Linked DNA regions of Homo sapiens: region 2 is linked to region 1. Evidence: fine-mapped expression QTL. A gene starts in region 1. The other region holds a variant in brackets. All regions are shown on one strand. Distances are between the middles of the regions.

Region 1 (5,392 bases):
GCGCAGGTGCACAATCCTGTGCATTACATAATCACAGTTATGTAACCACATTATGGGTGGGCTCATCAACTGGCTTTGAGCCACTATTGTCTGTGAGCAATATAACTGGACTGCTGACTCTGTAAGAGAGAGCTGGGCCACCTTGCAGGTGGCTGGGAGGGGAGTCAGGAAGCGGCAAGCACAATGGGGAACTCAGCTACAGGCGTGGGGGTGGCAGGAGCGGTGGAGCCAGCGCTGAGAGGCCGCAGTTGGAGCAGGTGGCCAAAACAAAGGCTGACACAGAGAGAGAGAGAGAGAGAGAGAGAGAGAGAGAGAGAGAGAGAGAGAGAGAGAATAAAGCTGTATCTCAACTGCTTATGGTCCCCCAAGTGTCCTTTCAACTACCCACCACCCGTCCACCAACTCCCCTCAGACCCCAGCTGGGCTTGGAACCTGACAACAACCTACTACTTGGAATTGGAATTTGAAGTTGGGGGGACACTCCAGGCAGATGGTATCAGAATTGAAATGAATTATAGGATACCCAGCTGTGTCCAGTGGAGAACTGCTTGGTGTGTGCTGTGTTGAGCATATAGTACATGAGAAAGAGTAAGGCAACTTTGCCTTAGGCACCCAACATTCTCATTTTTTTTTGAACCTACATTTTTAAGAAATAGGCTTTATTTTTTAGAATGGTTTTAGGTTCTAAAATTCCACAGAAGATAGGGAGATTTCCCACATACTCCCTGCCCCCACACATCCATAACCTCCCTATTATCAATATTGCCCACCAGAGTGGAACATCAGTTACAATTGATGAACCTGCCTTGAAACATTTTTATCACAGAGTCCATAGTTTCCATTAGGGTTCACTCTTGGTGTTGTACATTCCGTGCATCTGAACAAATGTTTAATGACATGTGCCCACCATTACAGTTGTACAGAGTAGTTTCACCACCTTAAGAATCTATTATTGGCCAGGCAGGATGGCACATGCCTGTAATCCCAGCACTTTGGAAGGCTAAGGTGGGAGGATGACTTGAGCCCAGGGGTTTGAGATCAGCTCTGGCAACATAGCAAGACCTCATCTCTACAAAAAATACAAAAATTACCTGGGCATGATGGCACGCACCTGTAGCCTACAGTCTCAGCTACTCGGGAGGCTGAGGCAGAAGGACTGCTTGAGCCTAGGTGGTTGAGGCTGCAGTGAGCCCAAGCCATGGTCGTACCACTGCACTCTAGCCTGGGCAACAGAGAGAAGCCCTGTCTCAAAAATACACATACATACACATACATATATTCTTATTATATATATATGTGTGTATATATACATATTCTTAACATTCTAAGTCCTCTCCCCCTTGTGCTGTAATATGTCTGCCACAACTAGCCACCCCTTCCCCCAACAAAAGGAGAAAGTTTGCCCAATAAAACTGTTTTGTGTAAAGACACAATTGCCTTGAGTAAAATCTTAGTAAAAGTCTACTAAATACAATTGCCTTGAGTCAAGCGGTGTTTTGAGAAAATCTAGAAATGTGGGCTGTATCCAGATTTGAACTTACACAAGGTGATAAAAAGGGAACAGCTATAAGACATAAAACAGCAAACTGGAGAATCCAGGAGGAACAGAGAAAAATGCAAATGGTATCTGGAAGAAAATTAAATCCTAGAGATACTGTGGAAAAGAGAGGAAGAGTAAGAGGCAGGATTCCTTTGTATTTAAATATCCTGGGACACAGCTACTCCAGCAGACTCGGGGGAGAGGCGGAAAGGCAGGCGGCTGACATCTGGTTACAGGCTGCCTCATTTCCACATGGGTGGCAGTCGGTAAAGTGCTGTTCTAGCAGTCTTTCACGCTCTTCACAGGTATCAGGGAAAATAAGAATATTTTGTAAAGTTATATAAAACTACCATGAAGTAAGTTATAATGTACCCAAAACAGGCAACCAGGACTTCCAGAAAGGGACTGGCTTGTTGGAAGCCAAATGGAAGGCAGGGAAGAGGGGAGGTCTAAAAGCAGGTATTCTCCAAAAGCCACTTACAACCTCACAACATAACTAGATCAAAGAATTTCTGTCATGCCAGATAGTGGAAGGCTGCTATGTTGAGAAAGGCAATTGAGCAGTTTTGGCGGCGGAGTCAAACAGAAGGCTTAGAATCAACATCTGTTTTCTACAGTATGCTCGCTTTGATTTCCATCTCCAAGTTTCTGAAATTCCAGAAACAGTATATGGCCTTGTCAAAGAAATGACGAATTACTATGTTACTTTGTGTTAACGAAAAGGTTACATTTATGTTCATATGGAAGAGATAATTCACTGAAGAATTTCCAATTTTTCAAACTGACACGCACACACAAGACGGAAAGGAAGGCAGCCTGACCGCGTTTCCCAGGAAACAGGTGGTGCAAGGTGGAGGTGCACCACTCTCTCCTCCAGGAAGGCGGTGACCCTTCCGCAGATGTCTCCGTTGGAAACAAATAAAGGGAGTATCAGTCAAAGCGCAATTCCCCGATTCCACTTGAGAAGCCCCGGGCGTCGAGGCACGGCAGGAAATTTACCACGACGCCTCCCACTGGCTCAAGGGTCTCCCAGGTGCTGTCGATTTTGCAAAGGGTCCGTCTCTACAGCGACTGTGACGAGTTTCGGAGCATCAGCACCGGGGAGCGCTGACCCGACACTCGGCTCTACCGCAGCCCGCCGCGCCTCGGCACCCTGGGCTTGTCCGGCTGGGTGTTGCCGAGCGAACGCCCCAGCTCCTGCCCGGAACCCACGTCCGCCGGCTCCTACCGTGCCTCATGATCCTCGCTCGGGCTAGCACTTTCCACGCGCGCTGACTCTGGGCTCCGACACCTGGACCGCCTCCGCAAGGCGGCGCGGCTGCTGTTTGTAAACACGCCCCACGTGCGCTCGCCCTGCCCCATTCGCAGCCCGCTCCCGGCACGCGAGGATCCTCCGCTTTCCCCCCAGCACTGGGGGGGTGAGATTTTAAAATTTCCCCCTAGGGAGAAAAGAGCCTCGTCGGCAGAGCCGGGCCACTGGGAAAAGCGCCAGGACAAGGCGAGCGTGTGCCTCCCCCTGCCGGCCAGGGAGGCACTGCGGCCCCGAAACGGCCAGGCGGTGAGTGGAACCCACGCAGCGCCTAGAGACGCACCCCTGCCGGGCCCCCGCCCCTCCCGCCCGCTCGCCGGAGTCCCCTCCCCCGGGCCGCGTGCGCTCACCCGCGCAGGCCCCGCCCCCTCGCCGGCACAACGTTCTGCGGGGGCGCGCGCGTGCTCTCTAATCCCCCGCCTTCCGGCTCCGGCGGCGACGCTCGTCCCTCTCCGCTCGTCCCTCGCCGCTGCCGGGCCACCAGTGCCAGCCTGCCTCAGGAGACTCCATTTGCGCTTAGTGTGGTCTGGGCGCCGCGCAGGCGGTCCCAGGGCGATGCCCGGGGCCGGCGGACTGGCGTTCCCTGTGCCAAGCGGCCGCCCGCTGGCTGGCTGGCTGCAGCAGTGACATCCTGGTCGCCGGCGTCCAGGCGGAATCCGGGCTCCCTCCGCGGGAGGAAAGACGTCCCGCGCTCTGAAGCTCGCCCAGCGGGGAGAGGCCCTCGCTAACACGGCTTCTCCCTGACCTCTTAATTTCAGGAGGTAGGCTCTTCAGGTCCCTCTCTCTGTCACCCCAGATTATGCCTGAAAGCATTATTTGTCGTATTTAGCTATCACATTGATAGGAGGCGTTAATTTTCTCAACATAGTTGCAGGATAAATGTGGATAATGCCACAGATCCTGATGTTGAATTGAAAGAAAATGTTTTTGGTATTTTCCTTTAGGTTTCGGAGCCTCCGAGTATCTCTACAGCCCCCACAGGAACTGCTTCTGTTGGTCCATCGAGGATCGTCTTTCACCAGGATTATTGTAACATCATCTTCACCGAGCCTGCCACCCCATAGCCTCTACCTTGGGTCCTCATTTCCACCGATGCAGTTTTTTTGATGCTTTCTTTAGTAATGTGACATCACATGTCCACTATCCTCCTTTCCAGCTGCCAAATCTAGTAGGTTTAAGTCGCTTTTAAAGTAGAGTTTTCTGCCTGTTCCACTTTCACCTTATTTGCACTGTTCACTTCTGTCCGGGTCATCTTCTCTTGCGTATGATTTCCACAAGCACTCACTTGCGCAACCTATAGCAGAGTCCGTGCCTAGAGAGACAGCATTCCATACAATCCACTGCTTGACAAAGACCACATAGTCAGAGGGTGAGTTTTCCCATTGTATTTTCCTGTATGTCAAGTTTGCAAGTCCTCTCTTGACTTAAACTGTTTACTCCCTAGCACATTTCCTAAAATACTTCCACCTGAGATTTAGTGGCTATTCTGGCAAAGAACATTACCTGCAAGGATGGCAAGAATTGAGTATGCAATAGTACTGTTTTAGAAGCCTTACCAGTACAGTTTCTAGCCTCTAGTGTGATTGCACTTCATGAAAGACCCTGAACCCTGAGGAGGAAGAAAGATAGAAGATAAGAGTTAATTGGCGCTAGGCTTTGTTGTAGGAAGTTTGTAAGTTTTAAAATAGCAAGTAGATTCACGTAGACCTTGTCAGGAAATTGGTCACTATCCATCTAGGCCCTAGAAGTGAGAGGAGGAATCTTACGAACTCATTTTCTAGTTGCTTTGTATTCAAATCTTAGTTGTTAATTATCTTGTTCTAGTAATCACCTAAAATATTAGACACTTAAAATGTTGGGGAAACGTAAGCGTGTGGTGTTGACAATTAAGGACAAGCTTGACATTATTAAGAAACTTGAGGAAGGCATCTCTTTCAAAAAACTTTCCGTGGTGTACGGAATTGGTGAATCCACAGTTCGTGATATTAAAAAGAACAAAGAAAGGATTATAAACTATGCAAACAGTTCAGATCCTACCAGTGGAGTATCCAAACGTAAATCTATGAAGTCATCAACATACGAGGAGCTTGATAGAGTTATGATAGAGTGGTTTAACCAACAGAAAACAGATGGGATTCCAGTGTCCGGAACGATTTGTGCAAAACAAGCCAAGTTCTTTTTTGATGCTTTGGGAATGGAAGGTGATTTTAATGCATCGTCAGGCTGGCTAACTCGATTTAAGCAGCGCCATGGTATTCCAAAGGCTGCTGGTAAAGGAACAAAATTAAAAGGAGATGAAACTGCTGCCAGAGAATTTTGTGGTAGCTTTCAGGAATTTGTTGAAAAAGAGAATCTACAACCAGAGCAAATTTATGGTGCTGATCAAACTGGATTGTTTTGGAAATGTCTACCATCAAGGACATTAACTCTTGAAACTGACCAAAGTACTTCTGGGTGTAGGTCAAGCAGAGAGAGAATCATCATTATGTGTTGCGCAAATGCCACAGGTTTACACAAACTTAATCTTTGTGTTGTGGGGAAGG
Region 2 (5,392 bases), 57 kb after region 1:
GTTATTTTAATTTTAAATGGCCCTATTATGTTCCCATACGTAATCCCATATCTAAAGTAGTACCATATGGTTCCAGGAGATGTTCCTGGCGGTATCCTGGAGGGATTATTACAGCGAAAAGTGGGCTCAGAGTTAACCTTTTGAAGATGGATGCAACAAATAAAACTGATCTGCATCATAGTGGGAGAAATTAATGCTATGGGTAAAGGGCATTATGAAACAATGAGTCATTTACTCCTGTGTTCCTGTGTAACTAAACGAGGGAATACTTTATCTACCAAATTTTAAATAAAATTTCATAGACAGTCTCTCCTCTTTATTCTCTTGATCTTTGCCGATCCACTTAACAGATAATGTCTTTAAAGGATCTGTATTTCACTTTTGTCCAGCTTTTCTGGCTATTCATCACTTTCAGGCACAGATTATTTCATCTGTACATTTATTTATTAATACAGTCAAGAACAGTCAAGAAATACAGAATGAAGACCTTCTACATATAAAGACCTACATTAGGTATTGGTACAAGGTCAGGGCTTCAAAGATTAATTTGGCATAACTCCCTTCCCTCAGGGGTCCATGGCTAATTTGTGGCATGGATGCCATTATTTAACTTTGCGCCGTGGTGACATTGAACCACAAAACTCTTTCCAATGACTGCAAAACCCTTCTTAACGTGGCATTCATAGCAGCTACTACCAAAATGAGGTTTGCAGAGGAAAAAAATAGAAACATTCAGATAATTGTCACCTGTTAGAGATATAAGCACTACCATGTCTTTGAGAGGAAAAAAGCCATAGTCCTCATCTTCATAGACCTTCTGTCTCAATGCGAGTTATAGTTCCAACTATCAAAGAGGAAGACTACTCGAACTCTCAGTAAGACAAGCTACAATATGCTCACATATAGGAGAAAGCCTTAAAAACACTGAAAGAGGCAAACAAACGCAAATGGTTAAAATGCTATATTTGTCTTACACTCAACAGAAGCCATAAGAAAGGGGGTTAATAATTTATGGGTGCCTAGAATGTGCCAGGACCTTGCTAAATTTTTCACATATATTTTATCATTTAATCCTCTCAATGACTGTATGAGACAGGAATATCCCTCAAACAGGTTAGGTGGCTTTTCCTATTACACATTTGATAAGTGATGGGGGTTATATTTCAGAACCAATCTTGGGTAATTCCCAAAGCCTATCTCTCTGCACTACATTGAGTGGTCATATTAATCGGGTAAACTTTCTACTTTTAGAATTTGAGAAACCCAAATTGGGTTGGAAAAACAAGATACACATTGTGTTCAAGTACATTGGTTGAGGTGCTGGAGAAGCTAAGTTTCAGCATTAATGCTTTTTCAGTTACATCCTCTACACAGAAATGGGTGCACAAGATGTGCTCAAGATTCACTGATTTCTTTCCAGCTCAAATTTACAATATAAACAATTCCAGCTCTCAAATGTCTATGATGTACAAAATATCTAGTCTTTGACTAAAAAGGGACACAATTTAAACTTCTCATATGTTAAGATAGCTACCTCTTGAAAGGTACGATAGTTTAATGGGGTAAACTTAATGGTATTGAAATCAGGTAAAATCTTCCTTAACCACTTGATAACTATGGGACGTTAGACAAATCACTTAATATATTTGGGAAAAAAGAATAAGCAAAGCCTAATTTTTCTTCCTATCTAGGAAGACGTTTTCCTGTATCTTCTTTATTTGATACTGGGGAGGAAGGAAATTTGAGCTGACACCCAAGGGAAAGGGAAGAAAACAAAACATTTATTTATTTACTCCTTCATTTGATTATTCATCCAACAGATATTTATTGTAGATTGTATACAATCATAGGTATATGTCTTACATAACTAAAATGTATGTATGTACACACCAAAAAACCTGTATGCAATTGTTCATAGTAGCATTATTCATAATAGCCAAGAGTGGAAACAACCCAAATACCCACTGAATGGATGTATAAAGTGTGATATAGCCATACACAATGGCTAACAATGTGCCAGCCACCATGGTGTTTGCATGTGTTACTCACTAATTCCTGTTGGAAGGCCTTAGGAAAGGGTTTTTTATCCTCATGTTATACATGAGAAAACAGAGAATGTGAAAGGATAAATGACTGTGGGCAGAAAAAACAATGGACTAGGGGTCAGGAAACTTGGATTCTAGATGCACCTTTTTACTAATACACTATGGAATGTGAGAAAATTCTCTGTAACAAGTTTTATGTTTTAGAGAAAGAGAGACCTGAAACATGTGACCTTGAAGGCAGCATAACTCCCTTTTTGCTACTTGAGTGATGAGTCCAACTCTTGCATTTGCCTTGGCTTTTTTTTTCTCCTTACATTTAATTTATATTCTTTTTTCCTCTATTTTATTTTACTATTATTGCTATTGGATTAATCTAATCTGAAGTTTTAAAGTAGAGATAAGAAATGTAGGATATTTGAGTCAATGAAAAAGGTCTCATTACCTTTGGACCAGAATGCAAATACAGTGTAGGCAGGAACATGCTTCACGTTTAACTTCGGATTCTCCTATAACATAATGTTCTTATTGCTGCTGCTGCTAAATTTAGGGAGAACTATGCCTAATGGGAATTCCAAATTTATCTAGTTTAGGAAATAATTCTTTTTCTTATATAAATTACTGAGTTGACAATATGAACCAAAAGAAGAACCATTAATAATATTTCAGAAACTGGTACTGAGAATAGTCTTATTTCATATATATATTTTATATATATATAATATATATTTATATAATAGGTTCAGATTAATTAAATACCATAAAATTCATGCTTTAGAAGTGCATACTACCATGGTTTTAGATATTCACAGAGTTGTGCAACCACCACCACTATCTATTAGTAATCGCTCCCCATTCATCTTTCCCCCAGCCTCTGGCAACCACTCAGTACTTTCAGTCTCTATAGATTTGCCTGCCATGGACCATTCATATAAATGCAATCATACATTATGTGGATTTTTGGAATTGGCCTCTTTCACTTGGCATAACGTATTCAAAGTTCATCCATGCTGTAGGAGGTATTGGTACTTCATTCCTTTTTGTTGCTGAATAATATTTCATTGTATGGCTATATCATACTTTATGGATGCATTCAGTGGACATTTGGGTTCTTTCCACTCTTGGCTATTATAA[G/A]TAATGATACGATGAACAATTGTGTACAGGTTTTGTGGTGTGTACTTACATACATTTTAATTATTTCTGACATATACCTAGGAGTGAATTCTTGGATCATAGGATAATTTCATGTTTAATTTTTTGAGGAACTGCTAAACTCTTTTCCAATGTGACTGCATCACTTTGTGCCAGGCTTCTTGGTAAGTATGATTATTATAGTAAATAGACAATTTTAATTTCTAGAGTAACAATAAACATCTAGCAAGTTTATATACCAAAAAATCCATTTCCTAGAGTTCACTATTAATGAGCTGGAGAAATTGAGTTTTTGATCCTTAAAACTGAAGCCACATCCTAGACCCATGGCTACCGAAGTACTTTCTTCCCCTGTGAGCAGAAGAAATATTCAAAATATCAAGTATGGCATGGGTACTGACCGGTGAGAATGGATTCACTTACTGATACAGAGTCCCTGGCAGTGAACACCAGGGCTGCTGGACCCATGTATGTATGTCTCAAATGCTCATAAGTCTTGTCAATCAGTTGGCGGGCCTCTCTTTACATTTGATTCATTTAAACTACAATGCTCTTCTATTCTGAGTGTGTAAGATTTGCAAAGAAAACAAACATTAGCAAGCTACCTATTGGAGTTAGCAAATTCTAACTCCAATAGGTAGCTTCTAGAGAGGTATGCTCTCTATTGTCTTGAACAGTTCTAGCCCATGTAAAATAATAATAATAACTTTAAAAGGTAATAATCTGTTAAAATGCATGTAACCAGAAAGTCTAAAATTAAAAAGAAGCAAATAACTCCAATCTGATGAAAGGGAGGATGATGTGCTAAATAACTTTATCATTGTTTTTTATTTTTGAATTTTATTTTTTATGAAATGTGATAATTGAATCTCAGGACATTTGTTTCGGTGACATCACTCTTATTCCATACCATAAATTACTAAACTATTAAATTTTTGTTGAATGTTATTATGCACAAAGTTTTCTCTTTTATATTTATATATACTACATTACTCACATTATACTGAATTATGAAGAAAACTGAATTTTGAAAAGAAGGAAAATTGGGAACATTATTTTACTTAATACATATTACATACTATACTAATGTTTTTACTGTGGAAACTGTTTCCGTATTGGTATACACCCAAATTTATCTTTTATGTTATCTGGTACATAATTTTACCAATAATATATTATTATATAACTAAATGTGCCTATATTTGAAAAAATTATTTTGCTGTCTTGGAGGAAGAGTCTTTCTATTATTTATAACATAGAATAAAATAAAAAATTCAGAAACTTAACTACATAGAAATAAACATACGGCAAAATATCCTAAGCAGAACCAAAAGCCAAATATTCAAAGAAATAAGAACATATATAATTCATATTAGAGATAGGGTTAATTTTCCTATCATATACAAAACTAGAAATAGATAAGAAAAAGACAACAAAAAATCCAACAGAAAAATGGACAAAAGATTTAAAGAGATTCTCCTACCTCAGCCTCCCAAGTAGCTGGGACTACAGGCACACACCACTGTGCCCCACTAGCAAGCAGCTTGTGAGCATATAGAAATATACTTAACTTCATTCACTCATAAAAGGTGTGCAAGTTAAACCAAACTGATACCATTTTCCCATTTATTAGATTGTTACATATCTGAATGTTTGATAACACAATGTGTACATTGTTACAGGCACCATGGAGGGCAACTTGGTGATTGCATCTAAACTACAAATGTAATCCTTTGATCCAGAGATTGTACATCTAGTAATATGTCATTCACCTACATTTGAACATGCTCCAAAAGACATATGCAAGATTATTCATTGCAGAATGTTTGTAAAAGCAAAAGATGGGGAATAACCTAAATGCCCATCAACAGAACACTGGTTAAATAAATTATAGTAACTTATATAATGCAACATTATACATAAGCTTCAAAGAAGAATACTCAGGCCATTTGAATGTGGAAAAGATCTCTAAGGTAAGGTGCAGAACACAATGCATTGCATACTATCTTTTGTATAAAAGGGGGAAATAAGAATATATATTTGTATTTTCTTGCTTATGTATAAAGAAATTTTGAAAGCATATACGGATTGAGCATCCCAAATCTCAAAATAGAGACCAAAATCTGAAACACTTCTGGTCCCAAGCATTTCAGACAAGAGATACTCAACGTGTAAGTAAACTATTTACAGAGGAGGTA

Which allele goes with the higher level. Positions count from the first base shown, and alleles are read on the strand shown. Sizes are in standard deviations (SD) of each study's normalised expression.
For the expression in thyroid of the gene that starts at base 3,260 in region 1, G is the low allele of the variant in region 2 and A is the other (small effect, 0.19 SD a copy in GTEx).

What was found. PIP is the estimated chance that this variant, and not a neighbour inherited with it, causes the effect.
Region 2: its variant is the best candidate, but not a certain one, in a credible set for the expression of TIGD2 in thyroid (GTEx, PIP 0.64).

What each region holds. Positions count from the first base shown.
Region 1 is chr4:89,108,274-89,113,665 of GRCh38, forward strand. TIGD2 (tigger transposable element derived 2) reads left to right here and starts at 3,260. Exons shown (of 2, transcript NM_145715.3): 1 at 3,260-3,610; 2 at 3,794-5,392. The coding sequence starts at 4,702. RefSeq lists enhancers at 2,768-2,877, 2,908-2,987 and a silencer at 3,068-3,517.
Region 2 is chr4:89,165,117-89,170,508 of GRCh38, forward strand. No RefSeq gene overlaps it. Among named protein-coding and RNA genes, the nearest start is that of TIGD2, 56 kb to the left of the region's middle. The variant G/A (reference allele first, on the strand shown) is at 3,177.